Homo sapiens: one gene and its partners. The protein of the gene in region 2 purifies or fractionates together with the protein of the main gene of each other region. This does not show direct contact. Each region holds a gene or a part of one and is shown on either strand. Other genes may lie near its edges. The genes, in order: SF3A1, SNRPA, NCBP1, SNRNP70, HNRNPC, RNPS1 and PRPF6.

Evidence for each region.
Region 1: the proteins of SNRPA (region 2) and SF3A1 fractionate together in Homo sapiens (co-fractionation; 3 studies listed by BioGRID and IntAct, with this or other methods). This does not show direct contact.
Region 3: the proteins of SNRPA (region 2) and NCBP1 purify together in Homo sapiens (co-immunoprecipitation; 2 studies listed by BioGRID and IntAct, with this or other methods). This does not show direct contact.
Region 4: the proteins of SNRPA (region 2) and SNRNP70 purify together in Homo sapiens (affinity purification with mass spectrometry; 5 studies listed by BioGRID and IntAct, with this or other methods). This does not show direct contact.
Region 5: the proteins of SNRPA (region 2) and HNRNPC purify together in Homo sapiens (affinity purification with mass spectrometry; 2 studies listed by BioGRID and IntAct, with this or other methods). This does not show direct contact.
Region 6: the proteins of SNRPA (region 2) and RNPS1 purify together in Homo sapiens (co-immunoprecipitation; 4 studies listed by BioGRID and IntAct, with this or other methods). This does not show direct contact.
Region 7: the proteins of SNRPA (region 2) and PRPF6 purify together in Homo sapiens (affinity purification with mass spectrometry; 2 studies listed by BioGRID and IntAct, with this or other methods). This does not show direct contact.

Annotation. Positions count from the first base shown.
Region 1 is NC_000022.11:30,350,395-30,353,894, reverse strand, and holds part of SF3A1 (splicing factor 3A subunit 1), read left to right. Parts: intron 1-822; coding exon 823-944; intron 945-3,500. UniProt on the Homo sapiens protein: Component of the 17S U2 SnRNP complex of the spliceosome, a large ribonucleoprotein complex that removes introns from transcribed pre-mRNAs.
Region 2 is NC_000019.10:40,757,703-40,761,202, reverse strand, and holds part of SNRPA (U1 small nuclear ribonucleoprotein A), read right to left. Parts: intron 1,773-3,500; coding exon 1,593-1,772; intron 1-1,592. UniProt on the Homo sapiens protein: Component of the spliceosomal U1 snRNP, which is essential for recognition of the pre-mRNA 5' splice-site and the subsequent assembly of the spliceosome. U1 snRNP is the first snRNP to interact with pre-mRNA.
Region 3 is NC_000009.12:97,657,821-97,661,320, reverse strand, and holds part of NCBP1 (nuclear cap-binding protein subunit 1), read right to left. Parts: intron 2,682-3,500; coding exon 2,578-2,681; intron 376-2,577; coding exon 253-375; intron 1-252. UniProt on the Homo sapiens protein: Component of the cap-binding complex (CBC), which binds cotranscriptionally to the 5'-cap of pre-mRNAs and is involved in various processes such as pre-mRNA splicing, translation regulation, nonsense-mediated mRNA decay, RNA-mediated gene silencing (RNAi) by microRNAs (miRNAs) and mRNA export.
Region 4 is NC_000019.10:49,105,778-49,109,104, reverse strand, and holds the end of SNRNP70 (U1 small nuclear ribonucleoprotein 70 kDa), read right to left. Parts: intron 1,481-3,327; coding exon 1,393-1,480; intron 1,311-1,392; coding exon 662-1,310; 3' UTR 501-661; downstream 1-500. UniProt on the Homo sapiens protein: Component of the spliceosomal U1 snRNP, which is essential for recognition of the pre-mRNA 5' splice-site and the subsequent assembly of the spliceosome. SNRNP70 binds to the loop I region of U1-snRNA.
Region 5 is NC_000014.9:21,262,943-21,266,442, reverse strand, and holds part of HNRNPC (heterogeneous nuclear ribonucleoproteins C1/C2), read left to right. Parts: exon of another isoform or gene 1-50; intron 51-894; exon of another isoform or gene 895-3,106; 5' UTR 3,107-3,132; exon of another isoform or gene 3,133-3,500. UniProt on the Homo sapiens protein: Binds pre-mRNA and nucleates the assembly of 40S hnRNP particles. Interacts with poly-U tracts in the 3'-UTR or 5'-UTR of mRNA and modulates the stability and the level of translation of bound mRNA molecules. Single HNRNPC tetramers bind 230-240 nucleotides.
Region 6 is NC_000016.10:2,255,374-2,258,126, forward strand, and holds part of RNPS1 (RNA-binding protein with serine-rich domain 1), read right to left. Parts: intron 354-2,753; coding exon 212-353; intron 1-211. UniProt on the Homo sapiens protein: Part of pre- and post-splicing multiprotein mRNP complexes. Auxiliary component of the splicing-dependent multiprotein exon junction complex (EJC) deposited at splice junction on mRNAs.
Region 7 is NC_000020.11:63,994,632-63,998,131, reverse strand, and holds part of PRPF6 (pre-mRNA-processing factor 6), read right to left. Parts: intron 3,217-3,500; coding exon 3,040-3,216; intron 2,806-3,039; coding exon 2,650-2,805; intron 1-2,649. UniProt on the Homo sapiens protein: Involved in pre-mRNA splicing as component of the U4/U6-U5 tri-snRNP complex, one of the building blocks of the spliceosome.

The DNA of each region.
Region 1 (3,500 bases), on a different chromosome or scaffold from region 2:
GGAACATGGTTTCTCAGAATGTAGTCGGAGTCCCTGCATCTGAATCACCTGGGCATTTGGTAATGTAGCAGGACGAGTCGCAGACAAAACTCCTCAGACACCGGATTAAAGAAGGAAGAGGTTTTTTATTCATCCGGGAGCGTCGGCAGACTCGTGTCTTAAGAGCCGAGCTCCCCGAAAAAGAAATTCCTAGCCCTTTAAAGGGCTTACAACTCTAAAGGTCTATGTGAAAGAGTCATAATAGATCAAGTAAGCGTGAGGAACGTGACTGGGGGCTACATACATCAGCTAACAGAACAAAAAGTTTTACAGTGCTTTCTCATACAATGTCTGGAATTTACAGATAACACCAGTAGTTTTGGTCAGGGGTTAATATTATTATTATTTTAACCACCAGGGCCAGGTGGTGGCACCAAGGTCGTCTAGCTATTTATCTTACTTCTGTTTCTTTCCAACTTTTTGCTTTCTCCCTTTTCTCCTGTCTTATAAACTAGGGAAAAGGGGAGGTTGGGGAGAAACTGGGAAGGACAACAGGAGAAGTGCTGGTCTCATACCATAGTAAAAATGCAGATTCCTGGTCTCACTGAGATAGTCCAGTGAGAGAGGAGCCAGGGAAGCTGCTCTTCTCCCTGGGTCCCCAGGAGCAGCCCCTGCAGGTGCAGTGAACTTAAGAGAACTGCTTTTCTGAAGTAGAGGGTTCTAACCTGAGGGAAGTCTGTGAATGAAAGTCTACTCTGAATGATATCCTAGAGGAGTTTTACAGTGGAGAACCTGCTCTGAACCAGGGACTTTAAAACCTTATTTCTTTTCCTGTTTGCACAGCCCACAGAAGAAGAAGCATCTTCAAAGGAGGATTCTGCACCTTCTAAGCCAGTTGTGGGGATTATTTACCCTCCTCCAGAGGTCAGAAATATTGTTGACAAGACTGCCAGCTTTGTGGCCAGGTAACAGAGCTACTTGGGTGGGTCAGAGGTGGGTTTCAGCATGAAGAGACTTCAGCACTGAATCAGCACAAGGGTTTTTAAAGAGACGTTGTTGGCTTGGGCCTTTTAGTTCATAAAAAACCACAACATGGCACTGGGGTAGGCAATAGGTAGGACTGGTGTCCCTGACACAGCATAGCAGTGGCCAAAGTGAGAATCACACTTAGCCCCACAGTCACCAGGAGCCTCTGCTTCTAAAACTGGCCTGAGGAAATGCCTGGAAAGCTGCTTCATCACAGATGGTGTGTGTCTGTGCCTGAGCTGCTGGCCTGAGGAAGATAAAAAGGGGAGTTTATTATTCTCATTGTACAAAGACCACATTCCAAGAGCCTCAAATGACCCATCTGCAAAATGGAAAAAATGCCATCTCAGAGTTGTTGTGAGGCGGGAGTGAGGTCATGGGGCTGCATGCAGTTCAGTTCCACGCGGGTGCTAGTCACCTCCTCAGATGGCATGGGCATTGCTCCGAGTTCCTCCTGTCTCTCCTCACAGTTCCATGCAGGTGCTAGCCGCCACCTCAGATAGAATGGGCATTGTTCCGAGTTCCTCCTGTCTCTCCCCACAGTTCTGTGCAGGTGCTAGCTGGCTTCTCAGATGGAATGGGCATTGGTCAGAGATCCTCTCTCTCCCCACAGTTCCATGCAGGTGCTAGCCGTCTCCTCAGATGGAATGGGTATTGCTCTGAGTTCCTCCTGTCTCTCCCCACAGTCCTGTGCAGGTGCTAGCTGGCTTCTCAGATGGAATGGGCATTGGTCAGAGATCCTCTCTCTTCCTACAGTTCCATGCAGGTGCTAGCCGCCACCTCAGATGGAATGGGAATTGCTCCGGGTTCCTCCTGTCTCTCCCCACAGTTCCACGCAGGTGCTAGCCGCCACCTCAGATGGAATGGGAATTGCTCCGAGTTCCCCCTGTCTCTCCCCACTGTACTTACCCTCACATCCTTAGATGGAATTTTTTTACTGGCCCCTTGACTCCAAAGGTCAGTACATTCTCTAGGGTATTTAAGGTATTCCTTTGGCAGCCCTCAGTCCATGTCCAGCCTACAGATGTTTTGTTTGTCCTCACAGTAATTTTTTCGAAACTCAAATTTGTTGCTACTATTTAAAAATGAGGAGGTCAGGTGCTGTGGCTCTTGCTTGTAATCCTAGCACTTTGGGAGCCCAAGGTGGGAAGATCACTTGAACTCAGGAATTTGAGACTAGCCTGGGCAACATAGTGAGACCCTGTCTACAAAAAATAAAAAGTTATCTGGCTGTGGTGGCATGGGCCTGTGATCCCAGCTACTTAGGAGGCTGAGGCAAGAGGATCGGTTGGGCCCAGAAGGTTGAAGCTATAGTGAGCCATGGACTCTAGCCTGGGTGACAGTGAGACCCTGTCTCAAAAAAAACAAAACAAGTAAAAATGAGATTTCACAATCAGTCTGGATTTCTGGACAGTTCCTTCATGTGTGGAAGCAGGCCCAATCAGCATGTGTTCTCCAGGGACCACGTCACCCCCCTGAGGCAGTGTCTCAGTCAGTATGCATCATTTAACGGATGGTCCTTCCTTTCCCAACCTAATAAAATTAGACATAAAGATTACTTTGGTTAGACTTTCTTTTTTTTTTTTTTAAATGACATGGAGTCTCACTCTGTTGCCAGGCTGGAGTGCAGTGGTGCAGTCTCAACTCACTGCAACCTCTGCCTCCTGGGTTCAAGTGATTCTCCTGCCTCAGCCTCCCGAGTAGCTGGGACAACAGGCGTGCGCCACCACGCCCAGGTAATTTTTGTATTTTTAGTAGAGACGTGGTTTCACCGTGTTGGCCAGGCTGGTCTCAGTCTCTTGACTTAATGATCCCCCGACCTGGGCCTCCCAAAGTGCTGGGATTACAGGCGTGAGCCACGGCACCAGCCTACTTTGGTTAGACTTTCACTATGTCAGCTCTGCAGATTCATCTCATTACATTTCAAGGGCTTTGATTACCTTTGAGTATTAGGTTGAAAGCTTCTCTGTGCTTGATTGAACATTGTGATGATGTTGATTGGGTCATGTCAGATTTAGACAGTGTTGTGTTTAAGATAAATGTTTAATGGCTCTTAGCAGTGTTCATGCCTCCCCTTTTCCCCTGATACTTTAAAAACAGAATATACAGAAAAGGGGAGTTGGGTGAAGAATCACCATATTCTCATTACCAGAGTAGTGTCTACCAGCTGTTTTCACATTTTTCTGTTTCCTTCTGTCCTTGGAATCCTTTTTTTAGATCCTTGTAATACTAGTAAAGATATTCCACTCTGTGTTGTAAGCATTTTTCCATTTTGCTCCATGGTCTTCATAATGCCCTGTGGTCCTTTATTAAGGGGATGCACCATGTAGAGGTGAAAGGCTTTCCTTGACTTGGCCACCATTTCTGTATTTTCCTTAGAGGAGGAGGTTTCCAACATTTCTTTTTTAGAGACAGAGTCTCGTTCTGACACGCAGGCAGGAGTGCAGTGGCATGATAACAGCTCACTGCAGCCTTGAACTCCTGGGCTCAAGTTA
Region 2 (3,500 bases):
CCTTGGTCTGTCTTCCTACCCTTCTGCCAACTGTATATCATCCTGGTTGGTTGCTGCAGGTTTTTTTTTTTTTTTTGCACATGGACGTGGTGGCATGTGCCTGTGATCCAGCTACTTGGGAGGCTGAGGCAGAAGATCACTTGAACTTGAGAGGCAGAGGTTGCAGTGAGCCGAGATTGCACGACTGCATTCCAGCCTGGGGAGACAGATTGACTGAGACTCCCTCCCGAAAAAAAACAAAAGAAAACAAAACAAAACAAAAAAGAGACAAGGTCTCACTCTGTTACCCAGGCTGGAGTGCAGTGACAAAACCACTGTTCACTGCAGCCTTGACCTCCAGTTCTCAAGCGATCCTCCCAGCTCAGCCTCCTGAGCAGCTGGGACTACAGGAATGAGTCACCACGCCCAGTTTTCTATTTTATTTTTTGTAGAGATGAGGTCTTGCTATTTTATAGAGGCTGGTCTTGAACTCCTGACCTAAAGCAATCCTCCTATCTTGGCCTCCCAAAGTGCTGGGATTACAGGCATGAGCCATTGGGCCTGGCCTGGTTGCTGGAGCTTCCCCTGGTCATGCAGGTCCTGGTGCTTTATTCTCCTCGCCTGGCTTGGCCTTGTCTTTCCACACATTTAGAAAGAGCCAATCAGTGTCCAGTGTTTACCGAAATTCCTGGTGGGATTTTGATTGCAATCACGTTGAATCTTCAATTAATTTGGATGGAACTGACCTCTTGACAATACTGAGTCTTCCTATCCATTGCTGAGTCTCTGATTTCTCCCAGCTACATTCTGTGATTTCAGTGTAGTCGTTCTGCAAACCTTTTGTTGGATTTACCCCTCAGTGCTACTTTTCAATGTGAAGTCTACTGGTCTGTTACTGGCATATAAAAATAAAACTGGGGGCCAGCCATGGTGGCTCATGCATGTAATCCTAGCACTTTGGGAGGCTGAGACAGTGAGTTTGAGACTAGCCTGGGTGATATGGCTAAGCCCCGTCTCTACAAAAAATGCAAAAGTTAGCTGGGTGGAGTGGCACGGACTGACAGTTCCAGCTGCTAGGGAGGCTGAGGCGTATCACTTGAGCCTGGGAGGCGGAGGTTGTAGTGAGCTGTGATGGCGCCACTGCACTCCAACCTGGGTGACAGTGAGACCCTGTCTCAAAACATAATATGAATAAATAAATAAAACTAATTTTTTTCCATATTGCCTTTATATCCAGCGATCTTTCTAAATTTAAGTTCACTTATTAATCCTAACAGTTGCTTAGTAGACACTTGGATTTTCTACATGCACAATGAGTTACAAGACACAGGCGACAAAATCAAGGCCACGGAGAGAGCGAAACCAAGTCATAGCCATGAAGAAAGACCTTGAGAAACAGTCACAAGGAGGGAACAAGAGTTTCGAAAGGAGATAGCATCATCTAGGTGCTCAATACCCCCCAAAAGAGAGAGAGAAACACATCTCTATAAAGAAATGGAAAGGAGGGGTCTGAAGCCCCAAGGGGAGAACTCTCCCCACCCTGTCCCAAAGCCAGTCCATGTGGCTGAGGAAGGTCTGGCAGTGGGAGGGTTGGTCTCCGGGACCTGGCTTACCGGGACAGGCCCCTGGACAGCCCCCACCACGGGGGTGGCTCCCCCGCCTTGCACAGCCTTCTTGGTGGCCGGGGTCTCCTGGCTCTTGGGCTTCCTCTTCTCCCGCTTGCGGTCCCGCTCCACGAAGGTGCCTTTCATCTTGGCAATGATATCTGAGTCGGTCTTGGCATACTGGATACGCTACCAAACAGAGAGCAGAACGGGTTAAGAGCGTGGATTCAGAGCCCAATTGCCAAGATTCAAAATTGGACCTTTATCAGGGGCCAGGTGCTGCGGCTCATGCCTGTAATCCCAGCCCTTTGGGAGGCTAAAGCGAGCAGATCACTTGAGGCCAGGAGGTGGAGACCAGCTTGGCCAACATGGCAAAACCCCATTTCTTTGTTTCTTTTCTTTTTTTTTTTTTTTTGAGACATTGTCTTGCTCTGTCACCCAGGCTAGAGTGCAGTGATGAGATCTCAGCTGACTGCAACCTCTGCCTCCCGGGTTCAAGCAATTCTGCCTCAGCCTCCCTACTAGCTGGGATTACAGGCGCCCACCACCACGCCTGGCTAATTTTTGTGCTTTTAGTAGAGACAGGGTTTCACCATGTTGGCCAGGCTGGTCTCGAACTCCTGACCTCAGGTGATCCACCCACCTCGGCCTCCGAAAGTGCTGGGATTACAGGCATGAGCCACTGCGCCTGGCCAGGAAACCCCATTTCTACCAAAAATACAAAAATTAGCTGGGCATGGTGGTGCGCACCTGTAGTCCCAGCTACTCAAGAGGCTGAGGCAGAAGAATCGCTTGAACCCAGGAGGCGAAGGTTGCAGTCAGCTGAGATGGCACCACTGCACTCCAGCCCAGGCAACAGAGCAAAAAACAAAAAACAAAAAACAAACAAACAAAAAAAAATTCAGACCTTATCAGGAGCTTACTGAGAAACACAGAAATATCTTGGCCTTAACTTCCTTGTCTGAAAAATGGGGATTATGATACTTCCCACTTCAAAGGACTGTTGTGAGGACTAAATGAGTTAAAGTGCTTGGAACAGTACCTGACACACAGTAAGCAAGTGTTCAGTAGAAAGGCTGTTGGTATTTTTAAGGGAAGCTGGAACAGCAATAAACATCAGGCCAAAGGACCGAGGAGACAATGCTAGGAGAGGAGTGCAGTGCAGGGGGATTTCCTGTCACACAAGAATACTTCAGTCTTCCAGGTTCAATCTCACTCACTTAGCTGTTTAAGGAGAACCTGCCAGATGCCAGGCGCCATTCAAGGCTCTGGGAATAAAGCAATGAACAAAATAGACAAAAACCCCTCTTTCATGGTGCTTATTCAGTAGGGGAAGGTATGTTAAAGATTCTTAGTGTGGCACAGTAGCTCACGCCTGTAATCCTAGCACTTTGGGAGGCTGAGGCAGGCAGATCACTTGAGCTCAGGAGTTTGAGACCAGCCTGGGCAACATGGCGAAACCCCGTCTCTACTAAAAATAAAAAAATCAGCCAGGTATGGTGGCACGTGCCTGTAATCCCAGCTACTCAGGAGGCTGAGGCAGGAGAATCACTTGAACCCGGGAGGTGGAGGTTGCAGTGAGCCAAGATTGCACCACTGCACTCCAGCCTGGGCAACAGAGGAAGATTCTGTCTCAAAATAATTTATTTATTTATTTATTTATTTATTTATTTTTTCTGAGACAGAGTCTCACTCTGTTGCCTAGGCTGGAGTGCAGTGGCAGGATCTCGGCTCACTGCAATCTCTGCCTCCCGGGTTCAAGCAATTCTCCTTCCTCAGCCACAGGAGTAGCTGGGACTACAGGTGCATGCTGCCACACCGAGCTAATTTTTGTATTTTAGTAGAGACAGGGTTTCACGGTGTTGCCCAGGCTGGCTGCAAACTCCTGAGCTCAGGTAATCCACCTGCCTCGGCCTC
Region 3 (3,500 bases), on a different chromosome or scaffold from region 2:
AATCCTTGAATGGTAACATATTTCACTTTGTATTTACGATGAAGTTTATATTCTTAAGTAAGCTATATCACAGAAATGTTAGGATCTCTTTTTATATAAGGGGAAAATACCTGGGGTGCTAAGAACAACAGTCTGAACAGGTCAAACAGATATAGATATATTGCTTTAAGAGCATCATGTTGCCAGAGTTATGTTTATGCTTTAAGTTGGCCTATACATAGTTCCACTTAAGAAATACTGAATTCCACTTACCGTCGTCATCATCCTGGTTAGGATTTGGTACATCTTTCAGAATGCTGAAGATTTCATCATTGGTTGCCTTACTTTTAAAGGCAACAGCTAAACAGAGGGCAACAGAATGTCCAGGAAGAGAATCTAAACACAGAATTGGGGGTAAGGGGAATGACAGATCAGGTTTCAAGACTATTCTAATGAACAGTTAAATAACTGAGAAAAATTTTTTTTAAATTCTTCCTTTCAAAATAGGATGCTCTTTATCCCAAGGTCAATATTTAATCACATATAAATACCGTATGTGAAAGCTTTTTCTAATAGGTTAATGGTTTTTCACCTAAAAAGGGACAATTCTCATTTCAACAATTCATTAAGGACACTTAGCTAAGTAAAATTTAGAGCACAAGGTGCTGATCATCCTCAAGATGAATGGTAAGGAGAAAAGTGGACACAGTTAAACTGTCTTTTAATGCCCTCAACTCTCCTGGGCTCAAAATCCCAGAACCAACGTACTTCTCTTTCATTTTGCCAACACCCACTTCCTCTTTCTTTCCTCGGGACCGTGGAAATGAAGTCTGAGTCTCAACAAGGTAATGGCTGCCAACTTCAGAGAGGTTTTGTTTTTGTACTTTTCTTTTTTGCTGAGTCCACAAGCTTGAATCTACGTAAGTCAGATGCTCACGTGATGGGACTCCTTGTATTTACTATTGGTTGGTATCAGTTGAGTCCTTATTATAAAAATTTGTGCTAATATACACCGTAAGGCATCACCAGAGCAACAAGAAATCTGCTTTTAATGTAAGGTAGACAAAGAGGTAACAAAAAAGGCAATCCTGTTATAGAGTATGAGTTACTGGAATGAATAAAGTAAATTACAACAGTCATGTGAGGACAGTCATATTACACCTGCTGTGAGCTTTTTCTCTAAAAAAAAGAAGGCGAAGAAAAACAGAATCCCCTGTCACCAGTCTACATTCTAGCTGGGGAACCAAGATATTCACATTAGACACAGCCAGGAAGCAATACAAAACTGGCTTGCTAACGGTTAAAAAATATTTACAGCTATTGAGCTTGGGCTAGAATCTAGAAGGAGAAAAGGAAGTGGAGCTAGAAAGGGCTTTCCAGACTGGGGTAATGGCAAAGTCAAGAACAGGGAGTATGGAAAAAATAAAAAAGTACATGGACCTGGCAGAAATAGAGGTCCATGTGGGGAGAAGTGAAAAATAACAAAGTAGGAACAATGGTTATGAAGGCCTTGAATGTTAGGCGGAGTTATTCCTATGGGGCAAAAAGAAAGCTTAATCTTCAACAAAAGCCTGAGCTTTCTGATAGCAAAGACTACACCTTATCATTCTCGGAACCAGTACAGGACAAAACTCAAAACCCAGCACTTCTAAGTACTGCATAAACCTTTGATCTGCCAAAAAGCACAGTGGCTAACAGCATGGCCACTCAGTTAGTGCACCTACGCCTGAATTTGGGCTCCACCACTCAAAAGCAATCTCATTCTAGCTTGACCTCTTGGAAGTCATTTCCTCATTGTAGTTTTGATAATCATATCTATTCTTCAGAGTTGACATAATGAAATAGGAAATGTACCAGGACCGACACAGTTCATTTCAAGGAAAACAGGTACAGTCAGAGACAGAGGTGGAGAAACAGGCACACAGTATGAAAAGCAAAGAACAGCAGAAAGTTGTGAGATACAAAGAACCTCTACACAACACAAAATGGAAGGATCATGGAGGGGCTGTGTTAAGTGTAATCTGCAAAGAACAAGTTGGAAAAACTCCACACCTAACTCTACCAGTGATCAACAATGTATAATACTTTACCTTCATTAAGTGTAAATACTATGCAAAGGGCAAAATGGCACATCAAATTACACTCCCTGATTTATGGTGCAATTTCAGAGATTATGTGACCAAAAGGTAAGAAAATCATAATTAAGAATTTACTTTTAAAGGCATACTGCCACAAATATGTGCATCTATGTTCTCAATACCACACCTGAACAAGATAATGAATTCAAGTAACCTCCATCACCATGACAAATACACGTTTTCAGTTTAGTAAGTTCTAACTATAAATTCATCTTGCTATACTTAACACATTCAAAAGAGAAAAAATGATAAGCCAGTAGTAATTAATTTTATCACAACCAAATCCTCAAAATGATGACAGGGCAAATAAAACAGTGGCTAATGATAGACCACCTTTCAAATACAGGAAATATAAACCCCAAGAAAAGAAAAAGTTCAATTTCTCCACTTTAAACAACTAACTTCAGATATACTTGAACTGGTACCTTTTAAAGACAGAGGGATTAGTTTCATTACTTACTGCTACTTTCATCTCCATACTTGTAAATGCAGGTTGGGTTTGCAGGACACAGAGCTGAGAAGGTAGGAGGAACAATATCTAATATACGCTGATGGTAAGACAACCTACAATACAAATAACAGCCTCAGAAAATATCTTTTATCAGTCCCATTCTTCGGTAACACCCGACTTACCTGGAAAGTCATGATCTCCAACAACTTGAACTCAGCTGACAACCAAGAAGTGAAAGGGAAAAAAAAATCCTTTGAGTTTTTGTCTAAGCCAGCACACCAAATCTCAGGCATACTGCAAAACTCACTGGCTTGCACTGAGGTGCGGGTGAGTGAGCTCATGAGCCTGGTGGCCAAGTATGTGGGGTGATGATGGGGCATGGTGGAGATGACTGCACGCTTTGGAAACTGGCTATATTCTATCAAATAAATAAATATTGAGGATAATGGAAGCCAAGTTTGTTACTGCCTGAGAAGGTGTTTACAAATCATGGTAGAGAAGAAGTGTAGAAATAAGGTATTGAGTTGGAATTGGAGGCATATATACACACAGGTGGACATAAAAACAGTTATGGATGGATGGATGTGTGTCCACCAAGAGGCTTAGAACCAATGACACCCCAATGGCAATGAGCATATCAAGTGCCCAGATCTTGGCTCCTAAATACCATATTCCATTACTACTTTACTAGAAACTAGGGCTCCATGAATAAATAGATGATTCCAGTGATAGGGCAAGAAAACGCAAGATGATCCTAAATATGTTGTTCTAGAAAATAAGGGAATGCTCAATGAATGGCTGGGGACGTTAAAAAAAAAAAAAAAAATATATATATATATATATATAGAGAGAGAGAGAGAGAGAGAGCTTACCGGGGCTCCTCATGTACATACCAGGGACAATTTGGGCATCAAAATAAATAATCCTCATAG
Region 4 (3,327 bases), 8.3 Mb from region 2:
TGAAATCTCAATTGCTGGTGGAACCTCTTCTGTGTTTCTGCTCGTTGCTCCTCTGTCACTACTTATTATGATGTGGGTCCACCCTTCCTGCTCTGCCCCGTCTCACCCGTGCCCAGTGTATTCTGCCTTTCCTCACCCTGTGTGCCGCTCTCCCTTGCAGATGGTAGCTTCCCTTGCATATTCAAAACTGCGGCTTCCCCTGAGTAATCAAGCCCCCTCCTAATTCCCAGCCCCCCACCAAGACAGGGGTATGGTCAGCCCTGAGGAATGTGTGGCAGAGATGAAAAAGAAAAAAGGGTGAAAAACACAAGGGAGACAAGGAGCCCGAGAGGCCGCCTCACCCCACTTTCAACAGCTCTGGCTACTGGGCAGAGCCAGCCTCATGTCCTAACGCTCAAGTTTTAAGTACACCCTGGAAACCAAACCAAGCAGGGCTATCAAGTCAGGAACAACCTTCTGGGGAAAACAGAGCAGTGAGGAAGAAACCGAGGTGCCCACTATCAACAGGAAATTAATTTTATTTTTAAATCCAAGGGGCCAGAACAAATGAGACACCTACCCTTGGAGGACAAACTCAAGTGGCCAAGGTTGGGGGAGGGGATGACAGCAAGGGGCTGGGCAGGAACGCGTCCAAACACAGCAGATGGAGAGGACGACCTCTTCACTCCGGCGCAGCCTCCATCAAATACCCATTCTCCGGAGCCAGGTAGCCGTCGCCGCCCTCAGACTCCATGTACATGTCTCGGCTGTCGTTGCCCAGACCCTCCAGCCCGTTGTCCTGGCCACCGCCCCCACCTCGGGCCTCATCCCTGCCCCGCTCACTGCCCCGCTCCCCCCGTTTGTGCTCGCGGTCACGGTCACGGTCACGATCCCGGTCCCGGCGCCGCTCGCGCTCGCTCCGGTGGCTCCGCCGTCGCTCCCGGTCACGATCCCGGCCCTTTTCCTCTGGACCGTCAGGGCCGTCAGGCCCGAGCTCCCCTGGAGGCCCATCATCAGGGGGCGCGTCACCCGCCTCGGAGGGCTCCGCCATGTCGCCACCGCCGCCACGCAGCTCCTCCTTGCGCTCCCGCTCCCGCCGGGCCCGCTCCCGACTCCGGCTGCTTCGCCGCTTCCGGTCCCGGTCCTTGTCCTTGCTCCGCTCCCTGGAGCGCCTCCGCTCCTCCTTGTCGCGACTCCGTGAGCGCCTCCGCCGGTCCCGGGAGCGGGAGCGTCGCCGTTCTCGCTCCTTGTCTCGCTCCCGGCTCCGCTCTCTGCGCTCCCGCTCACGGTCCCGGTCCCGGTCCCTGTGCGGAAGCGGGGAGGGGCCGGGCCTGGATGAGGTGGGCAGACCTGTGTGGCTGGGCTCCCCCCGTGACCGCCCCCCACCCCAGGACACCGGTCGCCCAATCTTACCTCTCATCGTAGCGGGAGGTGTCATCGCGGCCTGAATGCCGGATGTTCACATCAGCCCCTCCTCTTCTGGTACCACCGAGGCCTCCTCCTGGGGCAGGGCAGACGGACAGAGGGTGAATCTGGGCAGGGACAGGGCCCGGAGGAGCAGAAATGAGCCGACTCCAAGAGCAAAGGGCAGGAAGGCAGCCCCTGGCTTAGTGTTCACAGGGCCGGGTCCCCCCGTGCAGTTCATCCCGCGCACTCCCATCACAAGACAGCCACGTCTTCTCTAATTAACTCACACAAAGCGTTCGCTAGGCAACAGCCGTTACTGGAACCCATGTCTGGCCCCAAAGCGCATCATCTTAACCATAGCGCACTTCACAGCCTCCTCAAAACCCTCCCTTCCAATCATCCTCGCCCTCACAGAAACCCGAAGCCAATGATCTTTCCACCCAAAAATGTGATCTGCTTAGAAGCCTTTGCTGGCGTCCCCCAGCCTAAGGTCCAAACTCCTCGTCAACTGGTGGTAGAGGCAGCAAGAGCGGGCCCTGCTAGCGTCTGAGCCGCGGCTCTTGGCTGCGTGTCCCAGGCCTTTCCCAGTGTCCCCACGCTCACCTTCCTGCCAGTGTCTGTGCATTCTCCTTGCCCTGGACTGGTCTCCCCTTCCTTCTCTGGTGAACTCACGCTCACCCTTAACGCTAGCCCGAACATCCTTTCTCGGGAAGTCTCTCCTCACAGTCCTATGTACTCACAGTTGCAGAAACGCTTCCTTCCCCTGGAGTTTCAGGTTTGCTACCTGAGTCGACCCCTACCTGCCTCTCCCACCAGACTGCAGGGCACCGGAACCGTGGGCATGCCCAGCTCTTGCTCACGGTACCAGCAGGTGGCGCTGCAGCTGGTATAGAAAGGTGGATGTGTGTGTGTCAAGTGAATAGATAGATGAACAGCCCCAAGGCACAGATGATAACCTCATGGTTCTGATGGGGAAACAATCTCAGATCAAGTCACTGGCCCACAGTGACTCAGCAAAGAAGGTGCAGAACTGGGCTGTCACTGCCGTCTGCTGCAAAACCTGCCTTCTCAAGCGCTCCTCTATCTCGCACTGCCTGGAAAAGCTTCCGTGAGGCAGGGCTGAGTTCTGTATAGAAAAGAGGCTGCAGGGAGACATTCTTATAGAAGCAGGCAGCGGACCAGGCACCTGCCATGTCACAGGCACAGGGCAGCTAGACTAGCCTTTCCTATATTCAGGTCATGACCCAGAAATGAGTCCCATCATCAATCTGATGGGTTGCAACCAACATCTTAAGAAACAAAACAGCAGAATACAACTATATACTTACTACATAGAAAAAACTGTTTCCTCAAACTTTAGGTTACAGTATTTCTGCGGGTGCACCGAGTCAAGATGTTATTGGCTAACACCAACAAAAAGTTTGAATGGCAATTGAACTAGAAGATTCTGAGATTCTGGAAAGACTGAGATTCTAGCATTTTCCCGCCCCAACAGGAAACAGCAGAGCTATAAGAACCCACTCCACCCCAGAGAGACCAGAGTAAGGTAAGAACATGCCTGGTAAGCTCCGAGGCTCAGCAGCTGAGAGCGTGGTCTCCCTAGCACAGGCGAGTCCAGAGCCAGGACACAGGGCTGGGAGGCAGGACAGGAGCCCCAAGTGGCTACTACTGCCTGGGTGTCTGCCCAGGGACCATCATCTTCTCTGACAACTGTCACTCAGCTTTGCAGGATTCAGTCCTCAATAAGCATGCCTGAGCAACAGGACCCCAGGCCCAACACTGAGTCAATCAAATGTGCCCACCCCGAAACAAGAGACTCATCCAGGACTGAGTGTAAAGCTGGGGCCTGTGGCCTGCTGCGCTGGGCCAGTGCAAAGAGGCATGGGACCGACCTAGCTGCATGGAGGCAAACGAGGCAGAAGCAAGCTGTGGGCTGTCACA
Region 5 (3,500 bases), on a different chromosome or scaffold from region 2:
GTACACTGGAAGGTCAGGCATTTTGTTTAAAGAATTGATTCTAAGGCCGGGTGTGGCTGCTCATGCCTGTAATCCCAGCACTTTGGGAGGCTGAGGCGGGTGGATCACGAGGTCAGGAGTTTGAGACCAGCCTGGCCAACATGGTGAAACCCCCATCTCTACTGAAAATAAAATTAGCTTGGCGTGCTGGCGCTCGCCTGTAGTCCCAGCTACTCGGGAGGCTGAGGCAGGAGAATCGCTTGAACCTGGGAGGTGGAGGTTGCAGTGAGCCATCGCACCACTGCACTCCAGCCTGGGCGACAGAGTGAGACCCCATCTCAAAAAAATGATAATAATTGATTCTAAACTGGGGAATAGAGAGATTCCCAATTTAAAATCTTCACAGTGGTTCTCAAACGTTAGCCAACACCAGAATCAATAGGGCTAGTTAAAACAGATTGCTATGATCTCTACCACAAGGGTTTCTAATTAAGTAAGTCTGGGGTGGGCCCTGAGAGTTTGCACTTCTAGTAAGTTCCAGGTGATGATGCTCATGCATCACTCATTCTGAGAGGTGCCCCTTTAGAAGAAGGGATCCAAACCTCAGGCAGGTTTTGACAAAGAATAACCTAGAGATACTTTTTTTCTAAAACTATCTCTGAGCTTTAGGTAAGGATACTTTTTTTCTTTGAGAGCCTCACACTGTCACCCAGATTAGAGTGCAGTAGTGTCATCTCAGCTCACTGCACCCTCTGCCTCCCGGGCTCAAGGGGTGCCCTCAGCCTGCTGAGTAGTGCTGCTAATTTTTTGTATTTTTGGTAGAGGCAGGGTTTCGCCATGTTGCCAGGCTGGCCTTGAATTCCTGAGCTCAGGTGATCCACCCGCCCCAAGCCTCCCAGAGTGCTGGGATTACAGGTGTGAGCCACGCCGCCTGGCCTCAAGGAATATTCTTGATTGAAAATGGTGCTAAAGTTGGTCTTTTTATGAGTGGTAGCTCTTCAGTTTAACATAAATAACATCTTGGGAGATACTGAGCTTTTTGATATTGAAAGATAGAATTGGTTTCTTTTCACATTTTTCTTTATTTTTAAGCTTATGTCTTGTGGCACCTGTACAAAGGACTTGGTTGTGGTTGAGCTATAAAGTTATGTATCTTGAAAATTGATTACCAGGTTTGGGCTGTGGCTCCAAATAAGAAAATGAAATGTTTCACCATAACTGTATTTCATAAACAGGAAAAGAACATTCAGATGTATATTTCTTACAATTCTTCACAAACTTTTTCCGCAATTTGTACATTCATACAGTTTTCACACATCAAATGTAAAAATTAACTGTCATTCCTACACTGTTCTTTTTAAAAATGTATGGTACTTGTTGCTGCTGTAGTCATTCATGTATAGTTGGCTCAAGGAACACTTCTAAAAGCTCAATTAAAAATTTTTTTTTTGAGACAGGGTCTCTCTCTGGCCTGGCTGAAGTGCAGTGGCGTGATCAGAGCTCACTGCAGCCTCGAACTCCTGGGCTCAAGTGATCCTCGCTCCTCAGACTGCTAAGTAGCTGGGATTTCAGGCTACCACACCCTGCTAATGTTTTTTGTTTTTAATAAAGTCTCGTCATGTTTCCCAGGCTGGTCTCAAACTACTGAGCTCAAGCCGTGCTCTACCCTGGCCTCCCAAAGTGTTGGGATTACAGGTGTGAGCCACCACACTTGGCCTTAAAATATTTTAATTTCCTCAAATTTACAAAGGAGAATAAGACCTCATGGCTAAATTGAACAGTGAGTGCAGCTAGTTCATTGTTTGCACAAGGAACTACAGTCTAATTGCAGTTCCTATTTTAGCTGATGAAACAACCAGTTTGTCATGGAAATTATTTTAGTGTGGTATTATGTACCAGATTTTTAGAATCCATAACTTGAAATTAGCTTTACACGCTACATAGTAAATAGTGGACTACAGAAACAAAAGTATTAACATAAGGACCTTAATTTTTTTCACCTATTTTATGACCTTAAATATTCAGTATTTTTTTAATTCCATCTGTATTTTCGTTTTGTCAGTGAGTGGAATAATGTGCTCCTTATTTAAAACATCTTTTCCCCTAACAGTAGAACCTATTAGGTCTTGTGGTTTGATCACTCACTGGTTTTGAGAATAGATGAGTCATCTCTAGTATAGATCTTCATGGTAGGCCATTCACCTTCAGTCTATTACTCATAGCAAAAACTCCACGGACTTTTTTAAGTTTAAAACCCATGAATCTGCTTAGGTTTTATAATCTCAGTATTTGACATTTGCTCACTATTTCATCTCTATTTGTTGGCCCGGTTTTTCTGTATTTTCTTTGCCCAAACTGCTCATTATCAAGATGAACATTTGGGATATACTCTTTTTGAGACCCTCAAGGGCATATTGACATGAATTTAGTTAATTTTAGTCATCTATTGATGTTGAAGAATTGTGAAGACAGTCACTGGTAGAGGTGATTCTATGGAGGCTATCCCATCCCAGTGGAATGTTAATGCTTTACCAAAATGTGTTAGCTGCAGTAGACAGATGTTTCTGTCTTGGGGGTTTAGGGCACAACATTTCTGAGGAACTCTGACTCAATCTGTCCCTTCTCCTTTCACAGGGCAGCAAGGCGAACCCCATCCCTACTCACTGGAGCTCAGCTTTGATTTTTAACCTCCCTTCCCCACCCTTCCAGAACACACACATTCCATTCCAAAACTGATTTTATAAAGACATTTTAAACATAATGATGCAACTTGGTGTGCACTACAGCAAATGTACAGGTGTTTTTTTTTTAATTGTTTCCAAAACCGGGACCTGGATTTAAGATGTAATTTTTAAAATTTCTATTTCTATTTTTTCTGCAGCAGTTGGGTTAGAGGAGGAGGAGCCTTTTAGCCTCTCATAAACTGACCTCTCTACTTCCTCGTGTATTTTTAAGATTGATTGATGATGTGGAAAGGGCTTTGCTTGTCTGCTACTGAAAACTTTATCCTTGCGGTTTTTGTGGAAACTGCTTTTGGAAAGAGAAAAGAAATGAACTTTACTGACTTGACATTTTTGCACCTCCCGTTTTTCTAATCTGGGCTATTTTTATTTTTGTTTTTTTACAGTGAGATTTTTTTGATCTTCAGCTACAGTAAGTTATTCCAATTTTTTTTTAACATTTTTCCTGACTTTCCGCTGATTTCCTTTTTATTGTTGTTACTAGTTACTATTACTTATTATTATTATATTAATACTTATGATGGTGATGATGATGATGATAATGACACTGATGATTTTTAACCGGATTAAAATCGAGTTTTTCTGAATGTTTCTAAGAATTTCTCCGGCCTCCTGATTGACTTTGGAGTTTTGCATCTTGGGAGAGAAAGCGAAGGCATTAGTATTTTTAAGTGGTTTGATCACGTAAACCTTTTCTCTCCCAACCCCACCCTTGCCCTCATCCCCTTCCCCACACTGAAAAGAATTTTACTGGCTGTTAAGTCTATGACCTTATTTTTC
Region 6 (2,753 bases), on a different chromosome or scaffold from region 2:
GCTGTGTTGGTGCAACTCTAGGGCGTCTCCTGCCTGTGGCTTACTGCAGCTGTGGCCCTCCTGCTCTCTCCATGAGCTCTGAAGGGCTCCTGCTCTCTGCCAGCCCGCACAGCAGTGGAAGGCAGGCAGGGCTGAATAAAGGGTCTGAAAGTCACTGCGGTCACATGAGGTTTGTGGCCTGATCAGTCCACTGAAACTACAAATTGTTTACCTTCTCCTCATCCGTGGGGGAGACCTGCGCCACATAGGCGGTGGTGGCAACATTCTCCTGGGAGGGCTGAATCTCCTGGGGGGTGGCCTAGGCCAGGGGGCCAGCACGGCGGTGGCAGTGATCTCCTGGCCATCAATTTGTCCTGTTGAAAAAGACAGCAAGTCATAAAATATCTAACAAGCATCTACCCTAGACAATGCATGCCACAGTGAAAGACAGGCCTGGGGGGACAATGACAATGTAAGATAATCACAGAAACAGGGCCGGGCATGGTGGCTCACTCCTGTAATCCCAGCACTTTGGGAAGCTGAGGCAGGTGGATCACGAGGTCAGGAGATCGAGACCATCCTGGCTAACATGGTGAAAATGTCTCTACTAAAAAGACAATAAATCAGCTGTGCGAGGTGGCGGGCGCCTATAGTACCAGCTACTCGGGAGGCTGAGGCAGGAGAATGGCGTGAACCCGGGAGGCAGAGGCTGCAGTAAGCAGAGATCGTGCCACTACACTCCAGCCTGGGTAACAAGAGCGAAACTCCGTCTCAAAAAAAAAAAGATAATCACAGAAATAACATCATGACTAATGTTTCATGAGGAAAAGAGGCATAAAAACTAACAGGACACACCAATCTCCACGTGTCGAGGCAGCCTCCCAGGTCAAGAGTCATCCAAGTCAAGAGCTAAAGAATGTGCTGGAGGCCAGACGCGGAGGCTCACGCCTGTAATCCCAGTGCTCTGGGAAGCCAGGCAGGCGGATCACAATGTCAGGAGTTCGAGACCAGCCTGGCTAACATGGTGAAACCCCATCTCTACTAAAAATACAAAAATTAGCCGGGCGTGGTGGCGTGTGCCTGTAATCGCAGCTACTCGGGAGGCTGAGGCAAAACAATCTCTTGAACCCAGGAGGAGGAGGTTGCAGTGAGCTGACATCATGCCACGGCACTCTAGCCTGGGCAACAACTGAGACTCCGTCTCAAGAAAAAAAAAAGAAAAGTAAAGAATGTGCTGGAATCTGCTAGGTGGAAGAGAAGGGCTATGCTGGGCCCTGTGCTGGGAAGGACCCAAAGCACTGGTGAGAGAAGGTAGCATCGAGAGCGAGTGACAGGCAAACAGAAGGCCCCAGGGCCAGGGTGGGGCTTCCTCGCAGGACCATGCAGGCAGTATCCGCGTTTGCGCTTCCTTCTCCTCCAACCAAGGGAAGCTGGGTCTGGGGCTAAGAGAAGTGGGAGAAGTTCTCTTAGGAGGGCTCTGCAGCACTGAGAGGGGCCTGAATCAACATCAAATGATTTGGCAGGGAAACGGAAGGATTCAGGGGACAGCTGGGAAGTAAAATTGCCAGAGCTTGGTGATGGATGGGATGGGGGTGGTGAGGTGTGAACTTCCACTGACGGAGAGGTGGGGCTGCGGTGGGAAGCTGCATGAAGGAAATTTTAGGAGATGCCAAAGACTTTGTGTTTGGAAACAAGCAGTCTCAGAGAGGTGGCTCTGCATGTAGATGGCACTGAAACACACGCCATGTGCATGAAGCGAGGAGAGGCAGTGTGGGATGTGGGCTCCAGGGAGAGAGGAAAGGAAATAGAGGTGCAAACCCAGGAACCCCAGGGGAGCATGCACCCCGACCTCAAGAATTGTCTGGTAGCTGGGGATACTGGGAGCCCAAGCGCAGCCCCTTCTGTGCCCTAAGGGGTAAAGGGCTCTTTTGTTTTCTCAACTACCTTTAAGGCACATGGGGACTAACTCCGGCATGTGGCTATGTATTCAGAACATACTTAAGAGGTTTAACTTCAGTAAACTCAGCCTAAGTTAGCCCAAATTAGGGATTTCACAGCACTGACTCTATAATAATGAAGAAAAATCCATCTTCTGTGTAGCTGCCAGTAAAGGCCAACCCCTTCTCATCTCCTATGGAGACAGCATGGACTCACTCCATTCAAAGACAGAAGGGGAGACACACAAAAAAAATCCTACCAGAATCTTACGAAAAGTTGGAATGTCTGTAATCACGCCCACCCAGAAGGTACCCGGGTCCCCTGGGTTTTTAGCTCAGCAAGCACTCAGACTGTCAAACAGCAGATAATCAGCAGACTCCACAGCAAAGGTGTGACTTACAAGGCCAACAGCTGATGTGAGCGCACAGAGCTCCTAACCCATTTCAGGACTTAAGAAACTTGAAAGAAAAGTTAGCCAAATATCAAGGAAACTTTCCTAATGCCTGAAGGGCAATTACTGAAAAAAACCAGCTAAGCTACTTATACAGTTTGTAACAGGGCCTCGGAAGACGGAAAGTTCTGGGGCACGCACACTCCACTCCCCACCAGGCCTGGCAGCCCAGACAGCACTGTGGGCTGTGTTCTCAGTGCCAGCGGCCTCAGTCACAGCAGCAGGGAGTGGAGCAGAGATGACTCCACATGCCTCAAAATGCTGCACTGAGGACAAAATGCCACCCGAAACTATTCACAAGGGTCCATGTGCTTTTAAAACCATTCTGCCAGATACAAATAGCTATAAACGTCATGAGTGGTTATGAGATACAAGTGTTTAAGAA
Region 7 (3,500 bases), on a different chromosome or scaffold from region 2:
CAGAGCAAGACCCCGTCTCAAAAAAAAATAAATAAAATTTTTATTAAAAAAGAAAGAATAGAAAGCAGGGTCTCTGACAAATATCTGTACACCCGTATTCACAGCAGCATTATTCACAATAGTCAAAAGGTGAAAGTGGTCCAAGTGTCCGTCAGCGAATAAACAGGTCAGCGAATGCGGTCTACATAGATGAGCGAATGCGGTCCACACACACCAAAGAGTCAAGTCTCATCCTGCCTTAAACTGAGAACATGCTGGCCGGGGCGCCGGGGCTCATGCCTGTAATCCCAGCACTTTGGGAGGCCGAGCCACGTGGATCACTGGAGGTCAGGAGTTCGAGACCAGCCTGGCCAACATGGTGAAATCCCATCTCTAACTAAAAATACAAAAAAATCACACTTCTAATCCCAGCATCCTGGGAGGCTGAGGCGAGTGGATCACGAGGTCAGGAGATCAAGACCATCCTGGCCAACATGATGAAACCCCGTCTCTACTAAAAATACAAAAATTAGCCAGACATGGTGGCACACGCCTATAGTTCCAGCTACTCGGGAGGCTGAGGCAGGAGAATCACCTGAACCCAGGAGGTGGAGGTTGCAGTGAGCCGAGATCACACCACTGCACTCCAGCTCGGGTGACGGTGCCAGGCTCCGTCTCAAAAAAAAAAAAAAAAATTAGCTGGGCTTGGTGGTGCACACCTGTAGTCCCAGCTACTTGGGAGGCTCAGGTGGGAGAATCATTTGAACCCGAGAGGCGGAGGCTGCAGTGAGCCAAGACCATGCCATTGAACTCCAGCCTGGGTGACAGAGAGAGACTCTGTCTCAAAAAAAAAAAAAAAAAAAAGAACATGCTGACGCATGCTGCACCATGAGCTAATTGAAATAAGCCTGTCACAGTAAGGTAAATACTGTATGATTCCAGTCATATAAGATCCAGAGAGTAGTGACATTTATAGAAACAGAGAGAACGGTGGATGCCAGGGGCTGGGGAGAAAGCGCACGGGGACTCAATGTTTAACAGGTACGGAGTTTCAATTTGGGAAGATGAAAACAGTTCTGGAGATGAATGGTGATGAGGTTGTATAACAACATGAACATAATTATGTCAGTGAAGGTATGTACAGTCAAGAATGATTAAAATGGTAAATTCTGTGTTACATATATTTTACCACAAAAAAATTACTGTGACAGTTTTATTTATTTATTGAGACAGTCTCACTCCGTAACCCAGGCTGGTGTGCAGAGGCGCGATCATAGCTCATGGCAGCCTCAAACTCCCTAGCTCAAGCAATCCTTCCACCTCAGCCTCTCGAACAGCTGGGACTACAGGCACCACCAGGCCCAGCTATTTCTTTTAGTTTTTGTAGAGACAGAGTCTCACCATCACCATGTTGCCCAGGCTGGTCTTGAACTCCTGACCTCAAGCAATCCTCCTACCTTGGTCTCTCAAAGTGCTAGGATTACAGGCATGAGTGCCTGGCCCAAAAAGTTTTACAATTTCTATGTAAACAAATTTCAGGCTGGGCATGGTAGTTCACACCTGTAATCCCAGCACTTTGTGAGGCCAGCGCGGACAGATCACTTGTGCCCAGGAGCTCCAGCCCAGGTTGGGCAACCTAGTGACACCCCATCTCAACAAAAAATACAAAAATTAGTTGGGTATGGTGGCACATGCCTGTAATCTCAGCTACTTGGCAGGCTGAGGTGGAAGGATCGCCTTAGCCCAGGGAGGTCAAGGCTGTATGTAGCCAGCCATGATTGTGCCACTTTTTGTTTTTGTTTTTGTTTTTTATTTTGAGACAGTCTCACTCTGTTGCCCAGGCCGGAGTGCACTGGTGCAATCTCGGCTCACTGCAACCTCCAACGCCCGGGTTCAAGCAATTCTCCTGCCTTAGCCTCCCAAGTAGCTGGGATTACAGGCGCCCGCCACCACACCTGGCCAATTTCTGTATTTTTAGTAGAGACGGGGTTTCACCATGTTGGCCAGGCCAAAAGTAGTATGTTCCTTCGTGGTATCTGATATGCATATCAGAAAGAGTTCTGTACTTCACTGGTGTCTAGAGCACCTAGTCTCCAGATCAAAGTACACGTTCCATGCAGGGCCACAAGACAATTTACTGAGAGGCAGGAAAAAAACACACTTTTTAAAAAATTATTATTTTATATTTTAAAAAAAGGCCAAGTGCAGTGGCTCACACCTGTAATCCCCGCATTTTGGGAGGCCAAGGCAGACAGATCACCTGAGGTCAGGAGTTCAAGACCAGCCTGGCCAACATGGTAAAACCCCGTCTCTACAAAAAATACAAAAATTAGCCGGGTGTGGTGGTGGGCACCTGTAATCCCAGCTACTCAGGAGGCTGAGGTAGGAGAATCACTTGAACCCAGGAGGTGGAGGTTGCAGTGAGCCAAGATCACACCATTGCACTCCAGCCTCTGAGTGACACAGCAAGACTCTGGGTCAAAATTTTAAAAATCTGCGGAATTATTCAGGCAAAAATCAAGCCAAAAAAAAAAAAAGGAGAAGGAGAAGAAGGAGGAGGAGGAGAAGGAGGAGAAGAAAAAGGAGAAGAAGAAGAAGGAGAAAAAGAAAACAAAACAAAATTAAACTGTCTAAACCTGTCCACAGGAAAATGCTGTGTGACAAACTCACCTGGCTCAGCCTCATGTCCATCAGAGTGTTCCTCGCTTGGCCAATCTTCCTCATGTCCAGCTCACCTGTGCCAGGTGTCATCAGTCCTGGCGTCATTCCACCTGGGTATGGAGTGTTTAGTCCACCTGGATAGGGTGTGTTAAGACCTCCAAATTGCTGGAGGGGAAGAGAGGAAAGGCAAGAATAAAACAACGGTTTGCACTGCATGCCCAAGAAATTTACTCTCTGAAATACTTCCCCAGTGGCCTGACATATGCACAGCTGTGCAGACAGACTCGGCCACAGCATAGCCATGACCTGCAGAAGCATTGAATCCAACACCACCCACCATTCCTGCCACTGATCTAACAGGACTAAATGGGCCACATGTGCCCTTTTTTGGAAGCTCACAGTTTGTCGGGGATCCACTGAGGTATGGTTCTCTCCGGTCTGTAAATGTTTGGCAAAGAAACTGTCAGGAACAGGGGTCAGCTTCTCATAGCGTGGGTTCCGCTGACGTTTATTTCTGGCATCGCCAACCTCGGGGATGCTCAGCCACTCTTCTTCTGTGACTTCTGCCAACTTCCTCTGGAAATATCCAGCCCCCAAAAACATTAATTCTCTGACAGAATTTCATGTGCCCAGGTAGGACCATGCCCTCTCTCACCCCTAGCCTCCAGATCACCAAGCTTTAGAAGGGATTTGGATGCAGCAACTGTTTTTTACTTTTGTTTTGAGATGGGTCTCATTCTGTTGCCCAGGCTGGATTCAGTGGCACAATCACAGCTCACTGCAGCCTCAACCTCCCAGGCTCAAGTGATCCTCCCACTTCAGCTTCTCAAGTTGCTGGGACCACAAGCGTGGGCCACCAT